2 separate regions of the Homo sapiens genome follow, and region 1 is linked to region 2. The links come from fine-mapping of genetic effects on gene expression. A gene starts in region 2. The other region holds a variant in brackets. All regions are shown on one strand. Distances are from middle to middle.

The links. PIP is the estimated chance that this variant, and not a neighbour inherited with it, causes the effect.
Region 1: its variant is the best candidate, but not a certain one, in a credible set for the expression of NATD1 in whole blood (TOPMed, PIP 0.53).

The regions. Positions count from the first base shown.
Region 1 is chr17:21,214,224-21,229,749 of GRCh38, reverse strand. TMEM11-DT (TMEM11 divergent transcript) reads right to left here and starts at 15,425. Exons shown (of 2, transcript NR_184102.1): 1 at 15,300-15,425; 2 at 9,017-9,385. It also overlaps the pseudogene RN7SL426P. RefSeq lists an enhancer at 14,608-14,817 and silencers at 14,978-15,247, 15,368-15,507. The variant G/A (reference allele first, on the strand shown) is at 6,536.
Region 2 is chr17:21,243,501-21,259,026 of GRCh38, reverse strand. It overlaps NATD1 (N-acetyltransferase domain containing 1), which reads left to right and starts at 5,617. Exons shown (of 3, transcript NM_152914.3): 1 at 5,617-5,868; 2 at 14,803-14,921. The coding sequence starts at 5,763. RefSeq lists silencers at 5,616-5,725, 5,876-5,995 and enhancers at 9,486-9,987, 14,219-14,961.

The DNA of each region.
Region 1 (15,526 bases), 29 kb after region 2:
AGAATTTACTGCACAAATAAGCCTAGCACAAAGCAGGTGCTTATAAGTATTAGCTGAAAGAAAGATTTTTGAATGAAAAAAATGGAGAAAACTACACTTTTTTTTCATTAAAAAATGGTTAGCTGGGTGTCGTGGGGCACACCTGTAGTCCAGTCACTCGGGAGGCTGAGGCGGGAGGATCACTTGAGCCCAGGAGTTCTGGGCTGTAGTGTGCTATGCCAATCAGGTGTTCACACTAAGTTCAGCACCAACATGGTGGCCTCCTGGGAGCAGGGGACCACTAGGTTGACTAAGGAGAGGTGAACCAGCCTCTGCTGGAAACGGAGCAGGTCAAAACTCCCATGCTGATTAGCAGTGAGATCATGCCTGTGAATAGCCACTGAACTCTAACCTGAGCAACACGAGACCCCGTCTCTAAAAAAAAGAGGGGAAAAAAAAGAAAAATGAAAATTAAAAAAAAAAAAGAATAAACGTATCAGATCACACCCTTCCTAAACTCGTTTTGGTCCCTGTAGCCGAAGGATGTCAGAGGGCAGCTCAGTGCTTCTCCCTACAACACACACTACCCTGTCTCAGCTGACCCCAGGATGGGCAGAAACCCAATCTGAGCTTATACCTAGGAGAGCAATTCCACCAGACACCACTGAGAACATTCCAGAACAAATAAGGATAGGAGTTTGCTGGGAGGATACAGTGACCTGACAGGCACTGGCCCACTCTATAGATAGCAGTCGCTGGCTGGGCCTTCCCTGCTCTCTCTGGCCCTGGGCTCCCCTCATAGTCTCTCAGGAAACCCCTACCTGCCATCACCTTCCTTTTCCTTTTCCTTTTTTTTTTTTTTTTGAAACAGAGTCTCAAAAAGTCAGGCTGGAGTGCAGTGGTGCAATCTCAGTTCACTGCAACCTCTGCCTCCCGGGTTCAAGTGATTCCCACGTCTCAGCCTCCGGAGCAGCTGGGATTACAGGCGCCTGTCATCACGCCCGGCTAATTTTTGTATTTCTAGTAGAGTTTCACCATGTTGGCCAGGCTGGTCTCAAACTCCTGACCTCAAGTGATCCGCCCGCCTTGGCCTCCGAAAGTGCTAGGATTACAGGCGTGAGCCACTATAGCCAGCCACCTTCCTCCTTAACTCTTGCCCACCACCCATGCTTGGCACAATCCCCTGTACAGAGGACCAAGCTGGAAGAAACCTTCCATAATTCAACTCCTTTTTAAAGGAGAGAAACCAAGGCCCCAAGGTGGGGTGACAGGTTAGGGGCAGGTGGGACAGAGACCCAGGTGTCCTGAGCCTCAATGCAGGACTCCTGGCCACAATGAATGCACGTGTGCTAGACCTGGGAGGCCTGGAGCAGCAGGAAGGAAGCAGGAAGAGCCAGCCGACTGGCAGGTCAGTACAGAGGCGGCCGCCCTGGCCTCACTGATGCACAGGCCCAAGGCAGCTCCTGAGGGCAATTCCAGGTTGTGCCCAACCCAGGCTGCTGTAGACAGGTTCAAAAATGTGCAATGTCAACACAGCTCTGACTCCTGCCACTCTGAGCTGCCAGGGAAAGTTCCAGAGTGATCTGGCTGGGGAGCCTGTGTCTGGGTGAGGAGAGAGTGGCCCCCAGGCAGGAGCTGACAGAGGTGACAGAGGTGGTGAACTCCCTTCTACTGAACTTTCAGACAATAGAGACACAGGTGTGAGGGCAACAGGGCCCCACTGCTCCCCTCCAGATGGGGGTGCTGAGGTCTGGAAGACTCTTGGGGCCTCTTAGGAAGGCCTCTGTAACCTCCTAATCTCATTCACTCCTAAGCCAGGCACCAAGGGCTCACTACGCTGAAACTCCCTGTTCCAAGTCACCTGCCTGAATGACTCCACAGGATACACCGTCTCTGATGGCACAGGGTCTCTCCTTACTTTTGGACTGATGTTCTCACTCTGTCACTTTGCAGTGCGTTGAATGGTGACCCTCAAAGTGACATGCCCACATCCTAATTCCTAGAACCCGTGAGTGCCACTATATTTGGAAAAATATCTGTCAATGTACTTAGGTTAAGGATCTTTCATTACGATGATGATTATTTTGAGACAGGATATCGCTCTGTCGCCCAGGCTGGAGTGCAGTGGTGTAATCTCAGCTCACTGCAGCCTCGACCTCCTGGGCTCAAGAGATCCTCCCACCTCAGCCTCGCAAAGTGCTGGGATTACAGGCGTGAGCCTCCACACCCAGTGAGATTAAGGATCTTGAGATGAGGAGATCATCCTGGATTATCTGGGTGGGCCCTAAACCCAACCAAGTGTCTTTATACGAGGGAGGCGGAGGGAGAGTTGAGACCAAGAAGGCTGACGTGCAACCATGAGGCAGAGGCTGGCGTGACAAGGCCACGAGTCCAGGCAGGCCACAGCCACCAGAAGTGGGAGAGGGAGGGAGCATCTCTCCAGAGCCTCTCAGGGAACACGGCCCTCCCAGCACCCTGATTTCATTCTTCTGAACAAATGCTTGCTGTTTGAAGCCACCCCATTTCTGGTCATTTGCTACAGTGGCCACAGGAAGCTAAGACCTGTCGCCCCCCCAATCCGTGGAAGCAAATCCCAAATTATTCCCATGCCCCCTGCTGTTCTCCCTCGCTGGCATCTTTCTTGCCTCTCTTCCCGCATACCATCCTCCTTCTTCTGACTCCGCCTTCCCAGGCTATGTAAGTCCAGGAGGCCTGGGGACCTGTGTCCCCTCATCTCCACCAATTCCTATCTTCTCAGGCATTTTCTTTTTTCTTTTTTTTTTGAGACGGAATCTTGCTTTGTCACCCAGGCTGGAGTGCAGTGGCATGATCTTGGGTCACTGCAACCTCAGTCTCCTGAGTTCAAGCGATTCTTCTGCTTCAGCCTCCCGAGTAGCTGGGACTACAGGCATGCGCCACCACGCCTGGCTATTTTTTGTATTTTTAGTAGAGACAGAGTTTCACCATATTGGCCACACTGGTCTTGAACTCCTGACCTCGTGATCTGCCCGCCTCGGGCTCCCAAAGTGCTGGGATTACAGGTGTGAGCCACCACACCTGACCTTTTCTCAGGCATTCTCTCCCAACTCCAACCCCAAACCACAAGATGAGATGCAGCCTCAAAAGGCAGCTTCTTTCTCCATCCGGAAGAGCAGAGACGCCTTGGGCCCTAGCAGGGAGGCGAGGGCTGGTGGGACAGGCATTTGGTCCTGGCTCCGCTGCAAGCTTACACTGGGGCCCCAGGGTCATCTTAGGACCTCCCTAGGCTTCGCTGGGTTTCCTCTGTGGAAATGGGAAAAGTCACACCAGATCCCCCCGAGGCCCCTCCGAGCTGCAGCGTTCTCTCTAAAGAATTGGAGAGAAGTTTCTAGGAGTCCCTGGGTTTCAGGATCTGTGAGATACTCTCCAAGTGCAAAACCCCACAGAGAATTTGGAAGAGTCAGTATGAAGAAAAATAATGTTGGCTGGGCGCAGTGGCTCACTCCTGTAATCCCGGCACTTTGGGAGGCCGAGGTGGGCAGATCACGAGGTCAGGAAATCGAGACCATCCTGGCCAACATGGTGAAACCCCGTCTCTACTAAAATACAAAAAATTAGCCAGCCGTGGTGGTGCGTGCCTGTAGTCCCAGCTGCTCAGGAGGCTAAGGCAGAGGAATCGCTTGAAACTGGAAGGCGGAGGTTGCAGTGAGCCGAGATTGCACCACTGCACTCCAGCCTGGGCGACAGAGCAAGAGTCTGTCTCAAAAAGGGGGAAGAAAAGGGGAGGGAAGAGGGAGGGGAGGAGGAAGGGAGGGGAGGGGAGACAAGGGATGTTGGCTGGGTGTGGTGGCTCACGCCTTTAATCCCAGCACTTTGGGAGGCCAAGGCAGGTGGATTACCTGAGGTCAGGAGTTCAACACCAGCCTGACCAATATGGTGAAACCCTGCCTCTACTAAAATTACAAAAATTAGCCAGGTGTGGTGGCTTGTGCCTGTAGTCCCAGCTATTCGGGAGGCTGAGCCAGGAGAATCACTTGAACCTGGGAGGCGGAGGTTGCAGTGAGCCAAGATCACACTACTGCATTCTAGCTTGGGCGAGAGAGAAAGACTCCGTCTCAAAAAAATAAAAAAAAAGAAAGAAAGAAAAAGAATGTTAAAATATCTCAAATTCCTTTTTAAATTATTATCATACTTTAAGTTCTAGGGTACATGTGCACAATGTGCAAGTTTGTTACATAGGAATACATGTGCCATGTTGGTGTGCTGCACCCATCAACTCATCATTTACATTAGGTATTTCTCCTAATGATATCCCTCCCACTGCCCCCGACTCCCACCGGCCCCGGTGTGTCATGTTCCCCGCCCTGTGTCCATGTGTCCTCATTGTTCAACTCCCACCTATGTCTCACTCATAAATTCTAATTGACATGATGAAATGATACTTTTTGGATATATACTGGGTTAAGTAAAATATATTATTAAAATTAACTTCAGGCCAGGCGTAGTGGTTTATGCCTGTAATCCCAGCATTTTGGGAGGCCGAGGCAGGTGGATCACTTTAGGTCAGGAGTTCGAGACAGGCCTGGCCAACATGGCAAAACCACATCTCTACTAAAAATACAAAAATTAGCCAGGCTTGGTGGCACATGCCTGTAATCCCAGCTGCTTGCAAGGCTGAGGCCAAAGAATCGCTTGAACCCAGGAGGCGGAGGTTGCAGTGAGCTGAGATTGCGCCACTGCATTCCAGCCTGGGCGACAGAGCAAGACTCTGTCTCAAAGAGAAAACATAATTTCACCTCCTTTTACTTTTTAAGTGTTGCTACTGGAAAATTGTGTTTGTTCTGGAGACAGTCTCACTCTGTCGCCCAGGCTGGAGTGCAGTGGCGTGATTTTGGCTCACTGCAACCTCCGCCTCCCTGGTTCAAGCGATTTTCCTGCCTCAGCCTCCCGAGTAACTGGGACTACAGGCACACGCTGCCACTCCTGGCTAATTTTTTGTATTTTAGTAGACACGGGGTTTCACCGTGTTGCCCAGGTTGGTCTTGAACTCCTGACCTAAAGTGATCCACCCACCTTGGCCTCCCAAAGTGCTGGGATTACAGGCATGAGCCACCATGCCCAGCCGCTGCTGGAAAATTTTAAAGGACCTTTGTGAGCAGCACAGTATCTATCCTGTGGCTCTCTGCGGTGGTCTCCCTCATCTCTGTCCCACTCATGCCAGGGCCCCTGGCATGTGCTCTATGGAAATGATGTGTGGATGCTGCCCAGATATCTCCAGGACCTGCTATTTGTTGGTCTGGGCTGGGGAGGTAGACCAGCAAGGGGCCAGAGAGTTCGGTTTAAGTGTACCCAGGTGAGCCCGGGGGTTTCCATGGCTGGGACAGATTTTGCTCTCATGGTCACCTTTTTCTTTAAATTTAGGTGAAATTCACACAATGTACAATTAATCATTTCAGAGTACAATTCAGTTGCATTTGGTGCATCCACAATGTGGCACAGCCATCGCCTCTATCTACTTCCAAAACATTCTCATCTCCCAAAAGAAACCTCATTCCCCCGAGAAGCCATCCCCATTTTCCCTCCTGCCCCCAGCCCCTGGCAGTAACACATCTGGTTTCTGTCTCTGTGGATGTGCCTGTTCTGGACATTTCCACATTGTTGTAACCATACAATATTTTATTTTGTGTCTGGCTTCTTTCACCCGGAACAATGTTCTCAAGGTGCCTCCGCAAGGTCCATGGACCGGAGCTCCACTCTCCTTTAGCTGAATCACATTGTATCATGTGGCTGCACCTCCTTGTGTGTATCCATGTATTCATGGACGCCTGGGTGGATGCCTCTCCTGGCAATGGCAAGTGGAGCACACAGTCTCTAAGCAAAACCTACGAGACCGCCTGGGTGCTGTCTCAGTGATGGCTGGCCCTGCCCATTCCTTTTGCAACCCCTAGGAATCCATCATCCTACTGGGGTTCCCTTGTCCCTCCAGCCATCACATAGGGTGGGACAGGATTGAACATAGCGTCAGACCCTCATTTCCATCGCCTTCTACCCAGAGTCAGCAATGTATCCAGCCCCAGCTCGTATCTGTGTGCTCTGCCCTCTGTGTCTTGGGCCTCGGGCTGCCAAGGAAGCTGCTCCCCTTCAGAACCCTTGAGCATGGTCCTCCACCAGTCTGCTGCCCCAAAACCTTGGGACACAGAGCCATGTCCTCACCCTGTAGTGTCCTTGTCCCAAATCAACCTATTATCTCCAGCTCCCTCTCAGTCTTGCAGCTTCTCAGAAGAGGGACAGGTGAGGTGAGACAAGCCTGTCTTCATTTTGAGGCCTTGATCCAACTGGGAACGGGGGTGCTAGGGACTGAATTGTGTCCGCCTAGAATTCCTGTGTTAAGGACCTAACTCCCAGGACCTCAGAATGGGACTGTACTTGGAAACGGGGCTTTTAGGAGGCAACGAAGGTGCAATGAGGCCACAGGGTGGCATCTTAATCTGACAGAAAGGGTATGCTTATAAGGAGAGAACTCTCTGTGTCTCTCAGCCATGTGGGGACACAAGAAGGCAGACATCTGCCTTCAGCC[G/A]GAACGGGATCTGCCAGCACCTTGATCTTGCACTTCAGCCTGCAGAACTGTGAGCAGGAACTGTGTTGTTTCAACCACCCAGTCTGTGGTATTTGGCTAGGACAGACTCACATACCTCCTTACCTAGGTAGACCTCCTTCCCCACTCACCCCTAAGTATGTTCAGTGATATCGCCTGCCTAGCACTCACCTGAAAATATCTCATTCTTGAATGCCTGTCTCCCCAGACATGGGTTCCTTGCGGATGGGGCTGACCCATGAGGCTGCCCTGGCTCCCAGCCTGGAGCACACATGCCCTAACTAGGAGTGGGCAGAAGGATGGACAGAAGGAGAGATGAAAAAGTGTGATGCGATGCATGGGCGCTTCCTAGAATCTGTTTCCCATAACGTTAACTACCAGAGCAACTGCTGTCATCTGGCCAAGGGTTCCCTGGAAGTGTCTGGTGTGAGCAGGGGCCTTGCTGTGGAAATGCTGGACAAGAACAGGGCCCTGTTTGAGCAACAGGAGCCGCAGCCTCTTGTGGCCACCATGAGACACTGGGCAGCGTGGGCAGGCGCCTCCACCCATGTGCGTTTCCCAGTTCATGAAGTCAAAATGCTGCCAGATGTCTCACCTTCCACATCGTTGTTGTCAGGATGACACAGGCTCTGCAGTGAGCTATGGGAAGTGAGGGGCTGCAATGATCAAACCATCTTTGCCTTGCTTGCCACACCCTCATGTGACCAACTTGGCCCAGTTTGCCCAAAACTCTCCCAATATTAAAACTAAAAATCCCATGCCCTGGGACTCCCCTCAGGCCCAGGCAAGCCAGGACAGCTGGCCACCCTTCCACATTCCTGCTCTGTTTTGGCCCCTGCCTTAGATGAGGGGCTGGCCACATGAGCTATGGAAAGGAGGGGCCTCGTCCATTCATCTCTCCACCACCAGGGTTGTACAAGCACGCGCTAAGGTTCTAGTGACAAATGCATCTCCAAGTCTGCACCACAAGCTCAGCATTCTTGCTGTTTCCATTCTCCGCCAAGGCGGACAATAACATAAAAGAGGGCTCATCTGTGCTTTCCTAGACTCACATTGTAAAACTATGGGACCAGTGAGGAGTTCCATTTGCATCTTGGGGCAATGGGGTGTGCTTGGGGTTCCCTAGGAGTACTGCCCATGCTCACACCTTGGTGCCTTTCCCATGTCTGAGGTGGAAATGTTGATGTGGTGGGATAGATCAAGGCTCCCCAAGGACATCCTGGCTGCATGGTAGCCAGTGGCTTTTTTGGCCAATGGCTGGGCTTCTCTGCTGCTGAGCCCTGTTAGGCTAGCTTTGGTCTCACCAAGTGGAGAATGTCTGCAGAGAGGCCTTTAGAAGGGGGTTGATTTCAGTGATCTACTGCTGCATAACAAGGAAACCAGGGGCATCAAATCACAGCCACTTCATTCTGCTTGTGGATTCTGTGTGTGGGGAATCTAGAGAGGGCTCCACAAGAAGCAGAGGGCCCTGTCCCTGCTCAGCTGTGATGCTCACTAGAGCTTTGACACCTGGCCTCTCCACATGGCTTGGGCTTCTTCAGCATTAAGACTTCAGACTTCCATCACAGCACAGGGAGCTCCAGTGACAGAGCCTCTATGGCCTTTTAGGAGCCAACCTTAAAAGTCATTCAGCATCACTTCCTCTACACCCTGCTGACTGAAGCAGTTATAGGCCCACTCAGATTCCCTGGGAGGGGACTTAGGCACCACCCTGAAGGAAGGAATGCCGAGGAGTTTGCTGCCATGCTTTTAAACCACCACAGGGGTGCTGGGGGAGAGTCTTCGCATATGGAAAAGGTGGGACAGGGGAGGCTGAGAGAGAGCGAGCGAGCAGAAGAAAGTGAACAGGTGAGAGACAGAGTGTGGCCACTGTGGTAAGTCCTGGGATTTTGGAGAAAAAGCCGTGCTATGTGTGATGTCACCATTCTCATCCATCTCCCTGGGCAACTTCCACCAAGTCCACACCATTTGTCACTGCTTCCAGCCTTGGATTTCTTTTTATCTCAATGATGTGACATATAGGACCAGCCTCTGAGGTGCCTGCCAGGTAAAGGCTACCTCCATGAGGGTGGGGCAGGGCCAGTCCAGAGAGGCCTGGGGATGCCCAGATGGCAGTGTGGAGCCCTGAAATGAAGTAATGATGACTGGAACTTCGATTCACTGCACACACACACTGCCTCACTGTATGCTGAGGCTGAGGCTTCACTTTATTTTTTGAGACAGGGTCTCACTCTGTCACCCAGGCTGGAGTGCAGTGGTGCAGTCATAGCTCACTGCATCCTCCAGTTCCTGGGCTCAAGTGATCCTCCCACCTTGGCCTCCCAAAGTGCTGGGATTATAGGTGTGAGCCACCTCCCCGGACCCGAAGAATTTTTTTAATCCTACGTGTTATGGGCTGAGTTGTGTGCCCCTGCCCCTCACCCTCACTTCAATTCAAATAACACAATCTTAACCTCCCAGTACTTCAGAATGGACTGCATTTGGACTTTTATTAAAGAGAAAATTAAGTTAAAATGAGGCCATGAGAGTGGGTCTTAACCCAATCTGACAAGTATCCATCTAAGAAGAGCAGATTAGGGCTGGGCATGTTAGCTCATGCCTATAATCCCAGCACCTTGAGGGGCCAAGGTAGGTGGATCACCTGAGGTCAGTTGTTCAAAACCAGCTTGGCATTTAGAACGAGGAAACATTTTAGAATGAGGAAAGGTAGGAAAGGATACACACCAACCTTTCAATATTGTTAGGATCACAGCAGTGCAGGGTGGCTTGTGGAATTATTAACTCTTATGACATGTCACTGAAGAACAAGATCCTGTAAGTGAAATTGCATATCTGGGGGAAAACATTGAAGCTGCACATTAATGGATGGAATGAGAAATACAATCTCCAGTAACAGAAATTTTAAATGTACTGTTAATGAATTTTTTTTTTTTTTCAGACGGAGTCTCGCTCTGTCCCCCAGGCTGGAGTGCAGTGGCGCAATCTCTGCTCACTGCAGGCTCCACCCCCCGGGTTTACGCCATTCTCCTGCCTCAGCCTCCAGAGTAGCCGGGACTACAGGCGCCTGCCACCTCGCCCGGCTCATTTTTTGTATTTTTAGTAGAGACAGGGTTTCACCATGTTAGCCAGGATGGTCTTGATCTCCTGACCTCGTGATCCGCCCGCCTCAGCCTCCCAAAGTGCTGGGATTACAGGCATGAGCCACCACGCCCGGCCTGAATTTTTTTAAAGTAAATAAACTCTGACTTTTTTCCTTAGTAAATACAAATTATTAAGGCCACCTTTTAAAAAGAGCATCATATTCAAAACGTTCCATTTCACTCATGAGAAATTCAAATTTTACAGAAAACAAGATGTCATTTTTTAAAGAAACCTTTTTAAGGATAATTTTAGATGTACAGAGAAGTCGCAAAAATAGTACAGTTCTGTATAGCCTTCATCCTGGTTCCCCTGACATTAACATCTCACATAGTCATGGTATGTGTCAAAACTAAGAACCAACATTGGCAGTTACTATTAACTGAACTCAAGACCCCATTCAGATTTCACCTGTTTTTTGTTTTTTTTTTCCTTTCTTGAGACAGAGTCTCACTCCATCACCCAGGCTGGAGTGCAGTGGCATGATCTTGGCTCACTGCAACCTCCGCCTCCCAGGTTCAAGCGATTCTCCTGACTCAGCTTCCCGAGTAGCTGAGATTACAGGCTTGCACCACCATGCCCAGCTAACTTTTTTTGGTATTTTTAGTAGAGACGGGGTTTCACTATATTGGCCAGGCTGGTCTCGAACTCCTGACCTTGTGATCCGCCTGCCTCGGCCTCCCAAAGTGCTGGGATTATAGGCATGAGCCACCACACCCAGCCCAGATTTCACCTGTTTTTCCACAAATGTCCTCTGCTACCATATTGCATTTAGCGAGATACCACTTTTAAATTTGCAAAAAGAAAACACTTGCTAACAGACCATGCTGGCACAGCTGTGGGGAAATAGGCAGTGTCATGTACTGCTGGAGGGAGTGGGGTGTAGTCTGGCAATATTTATCAAAACAACAAGTGCCTACACTCTGACCCAGCAAGTTCTCGTCAGGAAATTATCCCAGTTTTATTTGCAATGGGTACCAGGAAGTGGCGCAAACATGTTTACTGCAGCACTCCTTGAAATAGTAAAAGACTGTCCAGAGACTGGCTGATACAATTATGGCATATCCAAACAATGGATTATCATGTACTGCTAAAACAAATCAGATATATACTGATACAGAGTGATCTCCAAGATACAATTAAGTGGAAAAAACAAAAACAAACAAGAAATGGAGGAATGTGCATAATATGCATCCTCTGGGCCAAAGAAAACATTTGTTAATATATGTCTACTTTATATCTGCAGAGGATCCATAACAAAGGTACCAGTTATTGCCTGCAGAGGGTTGTGGACAGAGATGGAAAGAGCCAGGTCACAAGAAGATGAGCAAAAAAACCCCCTTATTTTTCACTGTATATTGTTTTGTAATTTGAATTTTATACCATGTGAATATACTGCCCATTCAGACTTAAAATTCTACTTTTAAAATGCTCATTTTGATGCTTTTAATGGTAAATTCAAACCTTTATGTAGAACTATTATACCTAAGATATTGTTTTGGAAGATTTGCCTTTCCCTGAATGCTACTACATGCTATGAGGAATAAAAATAGGCTGAGTTTTTACTCCTCAAAACAGCCCTGCAAGATAGGCGCTGTGTGAATGGCATCTATTTTCTCCCCTACACCTGCCTTTCTATACTCTCCATGGTCAGGGCTGGAAGCCAAACAACTACATTTCCCAGACTCCCTTGTCATCTGACTCAGCCAGTGGGAGGCACTGGTGGGAGTTTGGAAGATATGAGATGGGGAAAGCAATTCTAATCTCTGGCTTCTGGTGGCACCCCAGGCCACAGCGGTGGTTCCAGTTGTGTGTCAGTAGTACCAGGCAGCAAGTGTGGCTCCAGGCTCCTGCTCAGCAGCTGAGGAATCAGTCTCTGGAAACGAATTTTCCTGTTGCTCCTCTAGCCTTGTGGGGGTCAGGCTTTGGGTGCCCTTGTTCTCCCCTTGTTTCTCATGCCCTTCCAACACCTTTGTAAACAATACCCTGTATTAAATGGTTTTTCCTCTAATTACACACTGGCTAATACAGATAAAATTACTCATATTTTACAGGTGAGAAACTGAAATTCAAATAGAGAAAGTGACTTAACCAAAGGCAAGCTAAGTACCACGCTTGTCTCATGATGCTCCAGCCACCTTGGTCCTAACCTTATTGGACCACCCCAGGCCCATCTGCACTGCAAAGCCATTGCATTAATTCGCTCTGCACAGAACATTCTGTCTTCAGTCCTTCGCATGCACACTCTTTCAAGTCCCACTCAAATGTTACCTTTTGATACAGTCGGGTTTTCGTTTTTAAGAGACAGGGTCTCACTCTGTCCCTCAGGCTGGAGTGTAGTAATACAAACATAGCTCACTGCAGTCTCAAACTCCTGGGCTCAAGAGATCCTCTCACCTCAGCCTCTCCAGTAGCTAGGACTACAGGCACGTGCCACCATACTTAGTTAATGTTTAAATTTTTTGTAGAGTCAAGGTCTCCCCATGTTGCCCAGGCTGGCCTCAAACTCCTGGACTCAAGCTGTCCTCCTTCCTCAGCCTCCTAAAGTGCTGGGGTTACAGGTGTGAGCCATTGTGCCCAGCCTTCAAATGTTACCTTTTTAGAGTGACCTCTTACCACCTGTGATCTCCAAGTCACTCCATTATATCATCCTGTTCCTTTTCTTCTTGGTACTCCTCTCTGAAAATATTTACTTAAGTTGTTTATCCCATTGGAATGTAAAGCCCGTTAAGACCCAGGAACAGTGTTTGTCTTACTAAACACCGTATCTCTGTGCCCAAGAGTACCTGCAGAGTATGCCTTCAACGATTTAAGAATGAATGAATGAAAAGTGTAGTAAGAGAAGTAGCAGATTACTTTGAGCACCAGCGAGGACATGCCTTTCCACTGGCTGCCTTCATACAGCAGGACAGAGGGCTCACGGGAGTCTCCACCGCAGGACAGCCCCCAGGAACTAATTCCCACCACTCAGGCTGTGCCCTCCAAAGGTGCTCAGCTAATACATACTGAGTCAATCAGGCTGCCTATGAACCTTCCAGACAACCTCCGTGCATTAACAGTAATCAGGAGGAAACACCGTGAGGATCTTAGACCAAGTTGGCAGATTAGAAGCAGACGGTCATTCAGAAGTTAAGGGGAGAGTAAAAAGCTGGAGAAATGGGATGTTCATTAGGGCCACAGTTGTTTCAGCATTTACATTTACTCTATGCACTAGACCTACCTCCAGTGCTTCTGGAGAGGCACAATGGCAGAGTGTAATCTCTGTAACTGGACAGTCTGGGCTCAAATCCTAGCACTTTCCTGGCTGGCAGTGTGAGCAAGTCACTCAGGTCGTCTGTAAGTTGATTTCCTCATTTACAAAATGAGATTGTTGATTAAAAAAAAAAGTGATACTATTATTAAGACAGAGTCTTGCTCTGTCATCCATTCTGGAGTGCAGTCGTGCGATCTCAGCTCACTGTAACCTCCACCTCCCGGGTTCAAATGATTCTCATGCCTCAGCCTCCCGAGTAGCTGGGATTACAGGCGTGTGCCACGATGCCCGGCTAATTTTTGTATTTTTAGTACAGACGAGGTGTCACCATGCTGGCCAGGCCGGTCTTGAACTCCTGACCTCAGGTGATCCACCCGCCTTGGCCTCCCAAAGTGCTGGGATTACAGGCGTGAGCTAACGCACCTGGCCAACAGTATCACTTTTATACAGTTGTTGTGAAAATCAAGATGTAGATCACTTAAAATATAAAACAGCACTTGGCCTCCATACACGTATCACCTCATGAAATACCGCAATCCTCTGAGGGGAGATACTATCATCCCATGATACAAACCAGGCAGCTGAGAAACAGAAGTTACACAAGCAGCCCCTGAGCCAGAAGTGCGTTCTAGAATCCCTAGTATACCCTCTGAATCACCACACTGATACAAAGAAAAGACAGCCATATCCGCAGTGTCATACCATGGAACTGTTAAGAGGTCTCCAGCATGAACTACGCTGACACTTGGAGGCAGGGCTGTATGACTCAACAGGAAGGCCAGGTACTTTTTAGAGACCAGACAGGTACAAGGTCTTGAAGGACAAAAGTTGGCTGGGAGAGCTGGGCACCGTGGCTCATGCCTGTAAATCCCAGCACTTTGGGAGGCTGAGGGGGATGGATCATGAGGTCAGGAGTTGGACACCAGCCTGACCAACATGGTGAAACCCCGTCTCTACTAAAAATACAAAAATTAGCTGGGTGTGGTGGCACCACCTGTAATCCCAGGTACTCAGGAGGCTGAGGTAGGAGAATTGCTTGAACCTGGGAGGCGGAGGTTGCAGTGAGCCAAGATCGCACCACTGCACTCAAGCCTGGGCGACAGAGCAAGACTCTGTCTCAAAAAAAAAAAAAAAAGTTGGCTGGGAGGTAAAAGCATTTTAGGTAAAGCATAGAACATCTACGTATCTGCAAACCCTCTGAATTTACTAGCCTGGCAAGTTCCAGACGGGAAAGGTAGGCAGTTGAATTTGGAGAGCTAGGCAACTTCCAAACTAAGGAGGGGCTTCTTGATTGTGCTAAGGAATTTGAATCACACACTGTAGGTGATGAGGGACGGTGAGAGGATTGCAAGCAGCTAAAACTGTGGTAGAATGTCAGCTGGAAGGAAATCGAAAGGAATCCTCAACAAGGAGAGGGTCGCCTTTCCGTCTGCTGGCCCTCCTGCTGTGGCCTGCGGCGGGGTGGGAAGGGGGGTTCCACTACACAGAAGTGTGACGCGCAGGGCTGGGCTTCTTCTAGGCTGAATTCGGGACAGATTTTCGCATTTGTTTTGCTCAAGTATTTATGGGACCAATTAATATGTTTAGCAACGTTGTCTGTGGGAGCAGTAGAGGAACTGAGAAGTTCACAAACTGTAAGAGATCCTCCAAAGAGTCCACAGGTCTGAGGCAGCAGCACCTGGGAATCTCTGGGCTCCAGTTAGTCCTTCCTGACTTTGACTCGTTACAGCAGTGTCCAGACAGGGATATGTCGGGTCCTGTGGCAGGGTTCCCGTCAGGTGGGATGGTTTAGCCCCGCATCTGCCTTCAAAGATCCCGAGATTATGCCGTCGCAGCGGCCAGGGCAGGAGTGGGTGCGTGGCAGGGACTGAGTCTAAGAGGCCTGGAGGCCCTGTCTAAAACAGAGCTGTCGCTGGGCCCTCTCGCCTTCAAGCAGTTATCATACAGCTATTCCCCTTTCTTGTTTTCAGACCCTCTCCTCTAACAGCCTGCACCTGCAAGCAGGGACCTCCGTGGCAGCAGGGACAGCGTGTCTGTCTCGGCCTCCAAAGTACCCCGGAGTCTAAGAGAACTGGGGGAGGATGGTGCGGGAGCAGCGCCCGCCTCCAAGGAGGGCCCGGGCGGCGCCTCCCGCCCCTCGGTGACCTTATGGGCCAAGGCTGTGAAGGGCAGGCGTGGCGACGCGGAGGGGCCCGGCGCTAGTAGCCCGCAGACAGCGCGGCGGCCCCCAGCGGGAGAGGCAGCCTGGCGGCCAGGACAGCGCGGCCGGGCGCCTCCGCGCAGTGCTCTGGGAGTTGTAGGCACTTGCCTCTCCTCTCTCCTTCAGCTACTGGCTCTCGAAACTCAAGGACCTACCGGTGGGTGGGCGCCTGTGACTCCCAGGCTGCGAACGCCGGGAACTCAGTTTCTTCAGAAATGCTCGAACCAGGACGGCTCCTGGAGTCCTCGCGCCCTCGCAGAAGGACTACGGGCCCCGGCGACCCCGGGGGCGGGGCTTCCGGCGCGCTGCCTTGTGGGCACGGTAGTTCCGCCGGGTCTGGCTTCCGCCTGCCGAGCGGCCCCGGACCGCAGGCCGGACTACA
Region 2 (15,526 bases):
CGTGATCCGCCTGCTTCGGCCTCCTAAGGTGCTGGGATTACAGGCATGAGCCACCGCGCCCGGTCTTCTGCAAACTGTTTTATCAGCAAGGTCTTTATGACCTGTATCTTGTGCTGACCTCCTTTCTCATCCTGTGACTTAAAATGCCTAATTTACTAAGAATGCAGCCCAGCAAGTCTCAGCCTTATTTTACCCAGCCCCTATACAAGATGGAGTCACTCTGGTTCAAACGCCTCTGACAAGATCATGCCCCAATCCCTCCCAGATCAGAGTCCAAGCCAAAGTCCCCTCAATCCGCCTGCAGGACCTCTGGTCTCATCCCCTGTCCTCCAGGGTCTCTCTGTCCTAGCCACGCTGGCTTCCCTGTGTTCTGGAAACGCACCCCAAGGCCTCTGCACAGCCACTCTTTCTGCCCTTCCCCCTATACCACCTGATTCACTCCCTCACTTCCTTTAAGTCTTTTTTTTTTTTTTGACATCGAGTCTCATTCTGTCACCCAGGTTGGAGTGCAGTGGCACAATCTTGGCTCACTGCAGCCTCCGCCTCCTGGGTTCAAGCGATTCTCCTGCCTCAGCCTCCCGAGTAGCTGGGATTACAGGCATGTGCCACCACACCCAGCTAATGTTTGTATTTTTAGTAGAGATGGGGTTTCTCCATGTTGGTCAGGCTGGTCTCAAACTCCTAACCTCAGGTGATCTGCCCACCTGGGCCTCCCAAAGTGCTGGGATTACAGGCGTGAGCCACCACCCCGACCCCTCCTTCAAGCCTTTCATAAAAGACTCCACATCAGCTGATGTCTGTCCTGGCCACCCAATCTGAAACCATGACCTCCTCCAGGAGCACGCCCCTGCCCCCTGCTGAATCTCCCACTGGGCCATGTGAACGGCCAGATCATTATTTTCTTCTTTGCTTATTGTCTCTCCCCCAACTAGAGCATCAGCTCCTAAAGGGCAGGGAGTTTTTTGTTTTGTTCACTGTTGGGTCTCCTTATGACAGTACCTGGTATGCAGTAAGCATCCAATATTTGCTAAATGAACTGATGACTGACTGAATAAATGATATCCTACGTCTACAACCTGGTCTCCACATGGCCGGGTTTCGGCACATACTGCTTCCCCAGGGTAGGGAGGCAGAGCACATCCACTGACTCAGCAGACAGTAAATGCTCACTTGGTTCTTTTGTTTATCCTTGTTCCAGAAGGGATTTCTGCAAGGTGAAAAGATGCCAGTAAGCTAAGTATATTCAAAAGCAGGGGAGAAGAAAGGGAGCCAGAGACAAGGAAGACCCTGGCTTTTAACTGGCCCTGGTGTGTGCTGGGCTCTGCCAGGGACTGATGAGAGAGGAATCTGTCCTGGATCTAGGATAGCTGGGGAACAGACACTAAATAAATGTGACTGCAGAGATGAGGGCTTCCCAGAGGAGGTGATGTTTGGACAACAGCACATGCATAGGCCCAGAGGAGGGAACGAGTATGGCCGGTTCAAGAAATTTCAGGAGGCGCGGTGGCTCAAGCGTGTAAGCACTTTGGGAGGCCAAGGCGGGTGGATCACAAGGTCAGGAGATCGAGACCATCCTGGCTAACATGGTGAAACCCCGTCTCTACTAAAAATACAAAAAAAATTAGCCAGGCGCGGTGGCGGGCGCCTGTAGTCCCAGCTACTTGGGAGGCTGAGGCAGGAGAATGGCGTGAACCCGGGAGGCGGAGCTTGCAGTGAGCCGAGATTGCGCCACTGCACGCCAGCCTGGGTGACAGAGCAAGACTCTGTCTCAAAAAAAAAAAAAAGAGATTTCAGGAACACGTTCTGGCCTCCCTAAACCACTTAAGTGCTCTGGAGATGGAGAAGTCACCTGAGACACTCATGAGGTTACATCTTGCTTGCTCAGGACTGCAGCCAACATGACTCAGCTGAGGTCAAGGACTTACCTGACCCCAGAATCACTTTCTGTCTCCTTGCATGTAAAGACTCACTCTCTAGCCTTGTTTTGTTTACAAACTTCCCAATACAAGACACACTGGTTGAAATAACAATAAAAATATGCTAGCAGAGGTTAGTCTCAGTAAATATATCTGACAAAGGAATGGTAACTGAACAACAAAAATCACTCTAATGAATTTAAAAATTAAAAAAATTAAATTTGCGCCACAAAAACTGTGGCACAACAGTTGGCCAAAGTGTTCACAACAGGATATCCAAATGGCCAAGGAGCATATAAAAAGAGGCTCAACATCTCCATTCAACAGGCCGCCGCAAGTGAGAGCTACAATGTGATGCCACTTCACATTCAGAATGGCTAACTTGGAAAAGAGTGTACAACGAATGAAACTCTCAAAATTGTCAGCAGGAGTGTAAAATGGTACACCCGCTTTGGAAAAAGCTCTGGCAATTTCTCACAAAACTAAATATACACCTACTATAAGATCCAGCAAAGGCCAGGTATGGTGGCTCATGCCTGTAAACCCAGCACTTTTTGAGAGACCAACACAGGAGGATCACTTGAGTCCAGGAGTTTGATACCAGCCAGAGCAACACAGAGAGGCCCCCAACTCTATGAAACTGAAAAAAATTAGCCCAGGATGGTAGCACGCTGTAATACAAAATTAGCCGGGCGTGGTGGTGCATGCCTGTAATCCCAGCTACTCGGGAGGCTGAGGCAGGAGAATCGCTTGAACCCAGGAGGCAGAGGTTACGGTGAGCCAAGATCGTGCCATTGCACTCCAGCCTGGGCAACAAGAGTGAAACTCCGTCTCAAAAAAAAAAAAACCCATAAAATATATATAATTAGACTGACAAAACAGACTCTTTTTTTCCTTTTTTTTTTTTTTTTTGCTCACTGCAAGCTCTGCCTCCCGGGTTCGCACCATTCTCCTGCCTCAGCCTCCGGAGTAGCTGGGACTACAGGCGCCCGCCACCACGCCCGGCTAATTATTTTTTTGTATTTTTAGTAGAGATGGGGTTTCACCATGTTAGCCAGGATGGTCTCGATCTCCTGACCTCATGATCCGCCTGCCTTGGCCTCCCAAAGTACTGGGATTACAGGCGTGAGTCACCGCGCCCGACCCAAAACAGACTCTTTGTAGCACTAAGATAACAAATTCCAACCTGACTCTGGTATAGCATCGCATGACAGATAACAGGCCCCGAAGGAAATTAACGAATTTTACCCAAAAATATATTATTCGACTTATTTTGGAATGGCCCTGCAATGCCATCTCTTGTGGGGGAAATTTGCATGTGTGGAGAATCCCCCTCCCTTTCTGGGTCTTTTTCTGATTAAGGAGAGATTTGACTAAGAGTCTGACACCTTTTAAAGTCCTAAAAGAGACATTTACCATCTATTCTTTCTGAAGCCTGCTACTTAGAGGCTTCATCTACATAATAAGAACCTTGGCTTCCACACACCCCTCCTTATCTTAACTCGAGTATTTCTTTCTGACATCAACTCTTTTTAGGAAAAGCTTAACTCTTTCAACCACTTGCCAATCAGAAAATCTTTGAATTGGGGGGGTGGGGTGGGGGCGCGAGGTGAGGGTGGCTCACACCTATAATCCCGGCACTTTGGGAGGTCTAGGCAGGTGGATGAGGTCAGGAGTTTGAGACGGATGGATCGCCTGAGCCTGGGCAACATGGTGAAACCCCATCTCTAAAAGAAATACAAAAATATTAGCCGGGTGTGGTGGCCCATTCCAGTGGTCCTAGCTACTTGGGAGGCTGAGATGGGAGGATCAGAGGATATTCTCGGTAAATATATCTGACAAAGGAACGGCTTGAGCCAGGTAGGCAGAGGTTGCAGTGAGCCAAGATGGCGACACTGCACTCCAACCTGGGTGACACAGCGAGACCCTGTTTCAAAAAAAGAAAAAGAAAATATTTGAATACACCTATGAGCTGTAAGCCCCCACCACTTTCTGGATGGCCGAACCAATGTACACCTTACAGGTATTAGGTCTTTGCCTGTAACTTCTGTCTCCCTAAAATGTATAAAACCAAGCTATAACCCGACCACCTCCAGCACATGTTCTCAGGACCTCCTGAGGCTGTGTCCAGGGCCATAGTCACTCATATTTGGCTCAGAATAAGCTCTTCAAATATTTTACAGTTTGGCTTTTTTTGTCAACACAATGGAATAATTACTCAGTGGCGAAAAAGATGCAAAAACAGGGATGAATCTCACAGATAAAATATTGAGCAAAAGAAATTGGACATTAAAAGTACATATTGGACTGGGTGCGGTGGCTCATGCCTGTAATCCCAGTACGATGGGAGGCCAAGGCGGATGGATCACCTGAGGTTGGAAGTTTGAAACCAGCCTGGCCAACATGGCGAAACCCTGTCTCTACTAAAAATACCAAAATTACCCCGGCTTGTTGTTGTAGCCCTGTAGTCCTAGCTCCTCAGGAGGCTGAGGCAGGAGAATCGCTTGAACCCAGGAGGCAGAGGCTGCAGTGAGCCGAGATCAAGCCACTGCACTCCAGCCTGGGCGACAGAGAGAGACTCCGTCTTAAAATAAAATAAAATAGTATATATTGTATGATTATGTTTACATGATGGTCTAGAGAAACCTAATTAGTCAACAACACTAGAAGTCAGGGACAGTGGTTACCTCAAAGGGTAGGGCATTGCTTGGAAGAGGGCCCTAGGGAACCACCAGTGTTCTGTATTTTGATTTGGATGGTGGTCACACGGGTGTGAACATCAAGTTTGCACCGTAATTAGCAAAATATTAAAAGTAACCTGTATGATTCACTGCACAGCTATGGGCAACAGGAGTGCCCCTTCAGGTGAGCAAGAGGGGAGGGTGTGGCTCTAAGGTTGAGCCTTGAGGAGCCTAATTAAGGCGCCTTTCAAAGAAGTCTGAGCCCCAACAGTCCTGTGTGTCTTCAAGCAAGTCCCTGCCCCTTTCTGGGATTCAGCCTCCCCATCTATGGAGTGGATCCAGGGATCCCCAAGGCCTCTTCCCGCATTTACGCCTCTCTTTGGGAGAGGTGGCATTTCACTCCTATCCCAAACAAGGCTTCACAGGACAATTCCTTCCCAGTAGCCAGTAGCCACCCAGGCTGCCAACACGGGTGGGTGCGCACTCCTAGCACCAGTAGCCCCAGGGCTTCAGCTGCGTGAGAACTTATGCATGTCTTTCACTTGTCTTAGCCTCTATTTGCTCATCTGTAAAATGGAGTCAAGCATACCTATTTCTCAGGCTTCTGGTGATAAATCTCAGCGCAGTGATTACTGAGCGCCCTGTGCGCCAGGGCTTTGCTATACACAGGCCGTGCACACAGCAAGTGCTTAATAAATGGTGGCTGCCTTGGGGACGATTAGAATGTCCATACAAAAGATTGTTACGTCTTTTTTAGAAGGCTCCTTGCGGGGGTCCCAAAGTTGCACGTGGGACAAACGCAAGACGGAAAAGTAGCCGGCGCGGCGCGGCGGCGGCCCGTGTTGTTTTGTTTGGGGCTGCGAGAGGAACGCGGCCGGCGCGGCCCCTTTAAGAGGTGACTGGAATGTATCAAAACAAAAAGGCCGCGCGTCCACTGGCTGCGCGCCGCACGTGACCTCACAGCTGATTTCCTGGCCCCCCCCCCACCCTTTTTGTTGCTGCCGCCGCCGCCGAGTGTCACTTTCAGCGCCGCCGCCTGCGGTCTCCCAGGCCGTAACTACCCCACCGCCTGCCGCCTGCGCCCGCGCTCCAGCCCCGCCGCGCGCCTGACCTTTCCCCGCGCGCCCCGGCCCCCGCCGGCGCCGCGCCGCAGCCCCGCGCGCAGATGGCGCACTCGGCTGCCGCCGTGCCGCTGGGCGCGCTGGAGCAGGGCTGCCCCATCCGCGTGGAGCACGACCGCCGGCGCCGCCAGTTCACTGTCCGGCTCAACGGTAAGGCGGCCCCGGCCCGCCCCGACCTTTTGTCTGCGAGCGAGCGGGGCCCGCCGGGGCCGCCCCCTTGCTGGGTGCCTGTCCCCCGCGCGCCCGCGGCCCGGCTCCGGCCCGCCGCCCGGGAAGGCTGTTGCAAGCGCGCGCCGCGGGGTGGTCCCGGGCGGCCGGAGCTCCGGGCGCGGGCCGGGTTGTGCTCGGGGCCAGGTGGGGGCGCGGCCGGCGCTCCGGGAAGTGGAACGGGCTGGGCGGGGGCAGACTTCCCGGGAGAGCAGGGGCCAGGGCGGACAGGGGCCCCTGGAAAGGCAGAGGCAGGAGCTGGGGCAGCGCGGGTCCCCTGTCTCAGCCGCAGGGGACCCGCACCTGCTCAGGCCCACTTGTTCACGACTGTTGGGCACCCACTGAAGGCTCCTGTTTGAGATCCTGGAAAGTTGGTCAGCCGTGACCTGTCCCCTTCTGCGGGTGGTATATGGCTTCCTGCTGCCCCTGGGAATCTTAGTCTTTCTACACGGGGGAGGCCTGCGGACCTGGGGCTGACCGCGAAAGGGGCTTGTGGTCCCCTGGGGGGAGTGAGGGGCGGGGGGATGGCTATCACTATCAAGACTTCAGTGGCTCTGGGACTGGCCATTTGCCTCACTTCTGTGTGCCTTAGTTTCTCCCTCTCTGCAATGGGAATAATACCAGTGCACACCCCATTGGCTAGTTGTAAGGATGAAAGACTGTAACAAATGTAAAGGATCAGACCAGCTCATGGGGGATTAGTAAGTGCTGGTAAACGTGGCCCGATCGTGATTCGTGAAGCCAGAAAGCAAGGGCAAGTTCTCCCTTAGTGTAGAGAAGTTTTTGTTTTTTGAGATGGAGTCTCACTCTGTCGCCCAGGCGACACAATGTTCCTGTGACACAATCTCGGCTCACTGCAACCTCTGCCTCCTGGGTTCAAGTGATTCTCCTGCCTCAGCCTCAGGAGTAGGTGGGATTACAGGCACCCACCACCATGCCCAGCTAATTTTTGTATTAGAGACAGGCTTTCACCATGTTGGCCAGGCTGGTCTTGAACTCCTGACCTCAGGTGATCCACCTGCCATGGCCTCCCAAAGTGCTGGGATTACAGGAGTGAGCCACCACGCCCTGCCAGTGTAGAGAAGTTTTGATTAGCCCATCCCCCCTCAGGAGGTCCCACAGGTAGGAAATAGAACTACAAAAACAAGGGCTATGAACTCCCTGTGGCCCACCTCGCCCCAGTGGGAATGTCCAAGCTGGACCGGTCCTTAGGGGCCACTGTGCCCATTTTCAAGAAGGGAAGGTGGAGGGCCAGGAAAGGGAAAGGCTTGCGAGAGGTCAGGCTGAGAGTTGGGCAGAGCTGGGATGGCGTCCTGACTGGTCTGACTCCCTGAACGGTGGGGCTCCTGCGACCCACATTTGGCTTCAGCCAGGAGGGGCCTCTGCCAGATCTCCGATGCCATTTGGAATGTGCCGAGTGTCGAGCCAGGCCCCACTACAGCTTCGTGGATGGGACTGTCACAATACCCTGACAATGTTGTGACATACCACCCCGTGTTACAGATGAGGAAACTGAGGCTAGGGACCTTAGGAAGTGATTGCCCAGCATCACCCAGAACTTCACCATTGGCCCAACCAACCCTACACCACCAGGCAGAGGCAAGTCCTGCTACTGCTGTGGTGCTGGCAGGGCTCAGCTGGCCAGGACACTCGGGGCCCTGGCGACTCTGGGAGAGAGGCCTCATGGCTTTCAAATCCTCTCTTCTGAGGTTCCAGAGCGGCCTCTGGTTCCCTTGTGGGCTCGGGAGGGCCATTATACTCAGAGACAGAAAGAAGAGGGGATACGTTTGTTTTTTTTTTTTTTTTTTCTTTTTCTTTCTCTTCCAAGTGGGTACAGCCAAAGGACAGCCCTCCAGAGCTGGCCGTGGTCAGGGCTGGACATGCCCAGCCGTATTTCTAAACTTACCCCCTTCTGGAATTCACTGCCCAGATAGCTGACCACAGATGTGGCTGGGCATCTCCCCAGCCAAGCCCAGGGGAGAAAGAAGAGAGAGGCCAGAGGCCCCCAAGGGAGTGGCTGTGCAGCACAGGGTGGGGCTCTTCTGGGCTTCCAGGCCCCACTGGGTTTGGGTGTGTGTCTTGGGACCAGAGAGGGGTCGTCTGAGTCTGAGCCCAGGCCTCCCTGAGCTGAGGAGGACAACAGGCTGTGGTGTCATTCCCGACCTGTAAGGCAAGCCTGGAGGCTGGTGCTGTTGTGCCCACTGAGAGATATAAACACTGAGGCTGAGGGGTCAGGTAGCCCCAGGCTCCTGGTGCAGAAGTGTTCCTAGGCTGTCCACATAGCACAGCTAGGCTGATTCTCTTCCTGCGAGCTCTGGTTCTGAGTGAGGGAAAACGTTTGAGCACCTTTGTTTATTAAGCATTTACAGTGTTCTAGGAGGCCCTGGGCACCTGGAGTCACTTTATTTCATAGCCACACACCACAGGGAGAGGGGAAACTGCATTTCCCATATACAGATGGGGAGACTGAGGCATGGGGAAGTGAAATGACTTGCCCAAAGTCTTGCACCACAGAGGTGGAAGAGCTGTGATTCACCCCGCAAGTATTTGTTGAGCACCTACCATGTACCAAGCACTCTTTTAGGTGTCGGGGTCTCCTGGGGCTGACAGTTTAGAGAGGGAAATGGACAAGAAATAGAGTCAGTTTTAAAGTATCCTGGAAAACAAGGGCTTTCATGAGAGGTGCAGGGGGCAGAGGGGAGGCTGTGTTGGGCAGGGCTGCTATTTACAATCATGTGTCTAGGAAGGCCCCTCCCTGGAGGGTGGCATTTAAGTGAAGACCTGAAGGAGGCAAGAAACAGAGCTGCAACAGGGAAGAGTGTTCCAAGTGGAGGGAATAGCAAGAGCAAAGGCTCTGCAGTGCCTGCGATGCCTTGTGTGTGCAGGATGGGTCAAGAGGTCATGGGGAGCAGGTGGTGCAGGGCCTGGAAGCCGTTGTCCTATGGGCTCGGCTTTGACTCTGAGGCTCCCAGGAGGGTCCTGAGCAGAAGACAGATGGGATGCCCCAGCTCCCTCTAGCTGCTGCTCTAAGGGGAGCAAACTGTGGGGACCAGGACAGAGCAGGGAGGTGGTTACTTTACTAGTCCAGGCACTGCAAACAGGCGTGGGAGAAACGTCTAGATCCTGGACAGATGTGGAAGGAAGCATGGCTGTGACTTGCTTGTGGGTGATGAGGGAAGGCTTGAGCTCAGGCTTGTCTGATGCCATATCCTGGTTCTGAAATGCAAGCTTGTCATTACTTTATAGATGGGGAAACCAAGGCGCACAGCCTGTAGGCAGCTAAGCCAGAATCAAGCCCCCGGCCTCCATCTGAGGACGGTTTCTGAAGGTTGGAGGCAGCTGGAAGAGACCCCCACCTCCTGGGCAGCCCCTTCCTTAGCCTTCCCTTTCCCTCACAGGCAGGGCTGAGTGTCCCACTTGCTGCAAGGAAAGGAACACTTGAGGGGTGCAGAACCCTGGAACTTTCTGCGTCCTCCCTAACCCCCATTTTGCAGCCAGGAAGACTGAGGCCCCAGAGAGTCAGCTGCTGCCCCTGGCCTCCCTCAGCACCCCTGGATGCAGTGGAGCTAAGATCACAGCCCCAGGCTTTGGGAGGTGCTCAGATCACAGCCCCAATATGAGGCCGCTGGCTGTGTTGGGCTGGGCTGGACCAGGGTCCTCTGGGGAGGGGAGGGACGTATGGTTGAGCTTCTCCAGGCTCACAGCTCCCTCTGCCTAATCTACCAATGAACCACCAACATGTGGCACCTCCCTGATCCAGGCTCTACTTACAGAGGTGCCAGAAAAGCCGGCCAGGGTGTCTGCTTGTCCTTGTCCCGTGCCACAGCTCTGGCGCCTGGGCTCTGCCTCCGTCTACCTCAGTCTCCTCATCTGTATATTCGCGTTTTGATCTGCCAGCTCTCCTTGCGGGGTCAGTGTGGGCCGAGTGGAGAAAGCAGAGGTCAATGTCTTCTGCAGACTCCACATCTCCCAGAGGTCCTGCCCCTGTCCCCTGTCTGCAAGCTTTGGTCTTTCTCTGTGATCGCCTCCCCTGACAATTTCCTGGCCCCCTTTGGTCCCGAGGTTCAGGAGGGGCAGAGAGAGCATGGGGGTGCAGAGACCCAGGGACGGGTCCCCCACGAGCAGTGTAGCTTTAACTTTTCCCAAACCAGTCACGTGATGCTGGTGGGGTTCTCAGGCCCAGGAGGGAGGAGGGTGGTAGTGATCATCCAGGGACAGGTGAGGTCTCTGGGGCAGAGGGGTGTCAGGACTGGCATAAGATCACCTGGCAGAGTTGAGACTGGAACTGAGGGCCCTGCCCTGCCCTAGGCTTGCTCCTGTGGCTCCCAAGTGACAAGTCTTGCCCCCCTGTGCTAGTCTGAGGTCTGGAGTTCTCAAGGCAGCTCTTAGAGCTGCCCAGATAAGGGCCTGGGCCAGGCCCAGAGGCTATGCCTATGTCACTGTGAGCCGAGACAGCAGGATCCACAGTGCCCAGAAGTGAAAGCGTGGCTGACAGTGCTACCCTGGTGTCCTGCTGTCCCATCATGGGGGCTGCGGGTGGTCAGGGGAGGCTTCTGGGCACGTGACCTTTGGGCTCACCTGAAATGAGAAGGAAGGGTCCCCGGAGGCCCTGGGCAGAAAGGTGACAGGCAGGGGAGCAGCCACCAAGGCAGGGAGGCCAGAGAGGCAGCTGGACCCCAGGCATGTTTAGAAAGCCATGTCCACGGTCCTGCCGAGGGTCAGGTCAGATGAGAAAAGGTGAGGAGGAGCCAAGGACCTTGGTCAAGCTTTGGGGACTTGGGCATTTTCCTGGGATGTCCAGGCAGGTTTGGGGCAGGACAAGGAGTTGAGCGTGAGGACCGGTATTGCATTTGTGGCCTGTGTCATGGGTGTAACACTTGTGACTGGGTGGCCTTTGAAGGCCCTCCAAGGTGGGGTTCAGGTCCTGGCCAGATGCTCCGAGGTTGCTGCCCAGGAGCCTGGCTCCTCGCTGGCCCAGTGCCATGTGGTCTGGCCCATGTAGGGTGTCCATTTAAACTCGGTCTTTTCCTCACATACAGCCCCACCACCACCGTGGCCACCCCAGATGCCCTCTGTTCCCCTTTCAGCCTGAAGACCCTCCTTTGACTCAGCCCTATCCCCAGTCAACTCCATACACCTCCGTGACTCTCATTCCAGGTGAGCCCAAACGTCACCTGCCCAGAGGCCTCCCCTGACTGCCCGCAGCACCCATGACGGGACAGCAGGACACCAGGGTAGCACTGTCAGCCACGCTTTCACTTCTGGGCACTGTGGATCCTGCTGTCTCGGCTCACAGTGACACAGGCATAGCCTCTAGGCCTGGTCCAGGCCATAGGCCCTTATCTGGGCTAGGCTCTAAGAGCTGCCTTGAGAGCTCCAGACCTCAGACTAGCACAGGGGGGCAGGACTTGTCACTTGGGAGCCACAGGAGCAAGCTTAGGGCAGGGCAGGGCCCTCAGTTCCAGTCTCAACTCTGCCAGGTGATCTTACCCCAGTCCCGACACCTCTCTGCCCCAGAGAACTGACCTGTCCCGGGATGATCACCACCACCTTCCTCCCTCCTGGGCCTCGGTTTCCCCATCTGTACATGGGGCTGTGAGAATCGTGTTTAGTGGGATGGTTGTGAGGATCGTTGTGTGGAGAGAGCAGAGCACGAGCCTGCCCTGTGCTGGGGCTGCACACGCTTGGGCCACCACCGCTTCTGTCCTGCTGTCTCCTGGGAGCCACAGCCTGAGGTGCAGGCCTGGCTGTGGGAAGGCCAGCATGCTGGTCCAGCCAGTTGTCCACAGGTCTGCCACAAGGCCCTAGTGTGTGTCTGGCAAAGACAGAAAGCAGTTGTTTTAGTTGGACAAACATTTCTTGGGTGTCTACGCCGAGCTGGGTGCCTGGAATATGGTAGTGGCTGAGCTGTGCGATCACTGAGGGTCAATGGGAGGCAGAGAAGTTCTGAGGACTCCCAGGGTCAGGTCCATCCATGGCCCAGGTGGCTACTCCAGAAACACTGACGCAGGGTGTGCACAGAGGAGTAGTAATGAGCTTGCCAGGCTTCTTGTATCCACCTCCCTGCTCTGCAGAGACTGCTGGAGCAAAAGCTGAGGTTTTTTTGGTGGCTTGCAGGGCCCTGTGTGGTCTGGCCCCAGGATCTCTGACTTGGTTTCCCAACCCTCACTCCCGGCTTGTTTGGGCCCAGCCACTCTGGCCTCCTTGCTCTTCCTTCAACCTCCTACCCCAGGGCCTTTGCACGTGCTGTTCTCACCAGTGGGCGGCTCATACCCCACATGTCCTTTGGGGTCCTTGTATGCCCTCTTTACAGTGGCAGCCCTGCCCCTCCCCACCCCTCCTCTGCTGTATAGTGATCCTTGGCACCTGTCAGCTTATCACCTGTGTGGCCTCTGTGATGTATGTATTTATTTAGAGACAGGGTCTCACTCTGTCACCCAGGCTGGAATGCAGTGATAACAATCATATCTCACTACAGCCCCAAACTCCTGGGCTCAAGTGATTCTCCCGCCTCAGCCTCCCAAATAGCCGGGACCATAGGTGTGTACCACCATGCTCAGCTTTTTTTTTTTTTTTCTTTTTTTTTTGAGATGGAGTTTTGCCCTTGTTGCCCAGCCTGGAGTGCAATGATGCGGTCTCAGCTCACTGCAACCTCTGCCTCCCGGGTTCAAGTGATTCTCCTGCCTCAGCCTCCCAAGTAGCTGGGATTACAAGCACCCGCTACCATTTCTGGCTAATTTTTGTATCTTTAGTAGAGATGGGGTTTCACCATGTTGGCCAGGCTGGTCTCGAACTCCTGAACTCAGGTGATCCACCCACCTCGGCCTCCCAAAGTGCTGGGATTATAGGAGTGGGTCACCGTGCCTGGCCCCTGTATTATTTATAATGATATTACTTATTGTGTGTCTTCATCAGTACGTAAGATCTCCATGAGGAAGAGTTTCATCAGTTTTGTTCGCTGCTGCCTGCCCTGCAGCCCAAACCCTACTGGGACACAGTAGGCCCTCAATGAGCCTGGGGTAATTAAATGGCCAGGCTAGGTAGGCAGCTCCCTTGGTGACGGAGTCAGTCCCAGAATAGCCTCCGATCTCTGCTCTCCTGTCCTGGGTGAGTTGAATTAACCCCAGCAGGTGGGGAGCCAAGAACCACATCCCTTGCTGTGCAGCCAGGACAGGCGGCAGTGGCCACAGCTGGGCCTTGGCCAGGGTGGCAGGCATAGTCCACAGAAGGACAGTCAGGCCCACAAGGAGGAGGCAGCAGGGCTGGTGTGGGGGCGGGGCTGCAGGCATGAGGGGAGTGGGGCTGGGGAACCCTCAGCTGGGCCTGGCAGGAACGGAGAAAGGGCATCAGGCAGAGGGAAGTGCCTAGGCGATGGCGGGTGCAGGAAGTAGCAGGTGTGTCGGTGGAGCAGAAAGAATGGCTGTGGCTCAGGACCTGCAGGCCTGGGCTCCAGCGTCATCTTGGCCTGCTGTGTGACTTGGATCCCTGCATCTCAGTAGTTCCTCATCTGGAAATGGGGAGATGAATTGTAGCCACTCTCCTGAGGCTTTGGGGAGAATCAAAGGAGATACCAAGAGCCAGAAGGCCTCCTTGCTGCCGTTGGCCCCAGTTCCGGTGGCCCTGGACTAGTGGTTGGACCTCTTGGCCTGTCAGCCTTCCCCTCGTGTTGCCCAGCACAGGCTTTAAGGGCAGATTTTCTGGGGCTTTGAAGTTAAAACTCATGAAACACAGCATGATTTTAAAGAGTGAATCACATCTGTCCCTTTGCTGAGGGCCTTCTAGTGGCGCCCAGCTCAGAAGGCTTAGGAGGCTCTGCAGGACCTGCCCTATCACCTCCCTGCCCCCATCTCTGCCCTTCCCCTCACCCACCCCACTCCAGCGGCCCCTCATTCAGGCCTACTCCTGCCTCAGAGCCTTTGCACTGGCTGTTCCCTCTGCCCAGAACACTGTTCCCTCAGAATGGCTGGTGCCCTCTCCTTCCTGTCTTCACCTGCCCCCATTCCCTGGCATCCTACACATCACTTGCTTTTCATGTTTATTCTCTTTCTCCCCTTCCGGTTTCATGGGGGTAGGACTCCATGTCTAGCTTGTTTGTTGCTATACTCCCAGCATCTGAAACAGTACCTGGGGCTCAGGAAACATTTGGTGGATGGATAAGTGGATGGGTGGGTTGATGGATGGGTAGGTGGAGAGACAAATAGATGAGACACTAAAAACTGTGATTAGGAAAAAGTTCAGTTAATTGTTTGCCCAGCAGCAGTTTGGGGTGGACTGGTGAGCTCCAGGCTTGGCAGGCCTGGTGGAGTGTGAAAACCCGTTTGTTCCTGCCTCCTGTGCCCAGCGTCAGTTTCTCATGAACTCTACCACAGGCCTCTGATCTTTCCTGCTGCGTCTCTCTCAGGGTCCAGCAGGTGGTCCTGATGCGTGGCGCAGCGCTGCCTCTCTAATCTCTTCATGCTCTGCCTTAGTTGCAGATTTGCTGAGCCCTGTTCTGTGTCCAGTGCTGGGTTCTGGGACTCCCAGATCCAGGGATGTGGTGGGGTGGGGATGCAGGGAGCAGGGCTACAGAAAGGGGTGGCAGGGCCCTGGGATGCTAGGACTGACGCAGTAGCAAAGGTTCATGTGGGGCTCAAGTGTTCTAGGCATGGCTGTAAGCACGTCACAGAGGTTACCTCATTTAATCCTCCAAACCACCCTATGAAGGACATTTTATTGTACCTCCACTTTATGGATGAGGAGACTGAGGCACTGAGAGGTTATTCAGGATTCAGCTGTAGCAGCTGAATGACTCCAAATGCCTGTCCCTCCACCCGTCTTGGTGCCTGAGTCCGCTGGGATGGGAGTCAGCATAGGCTTACCTGTCTCCACAACCCCCAGGATGTCATGACCGGGCCGTCCTGCTCTATGAGTACGTGGGCAAGCGGATCGTGGACCTGCAGCACACCGAGGTCCCAGATGCCTACCGTGGGCGTGGCATCGCCAAGCACCTTGCCAAGGTAGGGCAGGCAGGTGGCAGGGCCAAGCGGGGACGGGGACATGGGGGCTGCCACCTTCGCTCCGAGGAGACGGTGGCCCTGGTGGCCACTTCAGCCTGCTTCTTGGCCCTGGGTCCTCTCTGGGCCAGTGGCCGCCTTTCTGGGCCCAGGCTCCTGTTCTGCAAGACCCTGGCGTGGCTGAGCCTCCAAGATCCTCACACACCTCCTGTGTGGCAGGTGCTTCACAGGAGCCCCATTCCTGCCCCCAACCCCTTCATCCTCAGGGCATCCCAAACCCCAGGCTGCCTGGAGAGCAGGTTTGGGCTTAATGAAGGGAGTTACAGCCAGAGCAAAGAATGACCGTCACTCCCCTGAGGGCTGCTGCTGGGACTTAGCTGGGCCGTCTGCCGGCTTCCCCTCCTCCACCCCCACCCCGCCAGGAGAATTGCAGGGCAACCTTTGTCCTCCATGCTGCCTGGGGCAAGGGGGCTTGTAGGGGAGAGGTGATGTGTTTTTTCCTTGTGTACCGGACCAGTCTGTGGGGATCATCCCAGGTGACACTGAAACTCAAGGGAGTTACTGACCTGGGCAAAGTGGAAGGGTGGCCAGGGAGCCGGGCCTGGGGA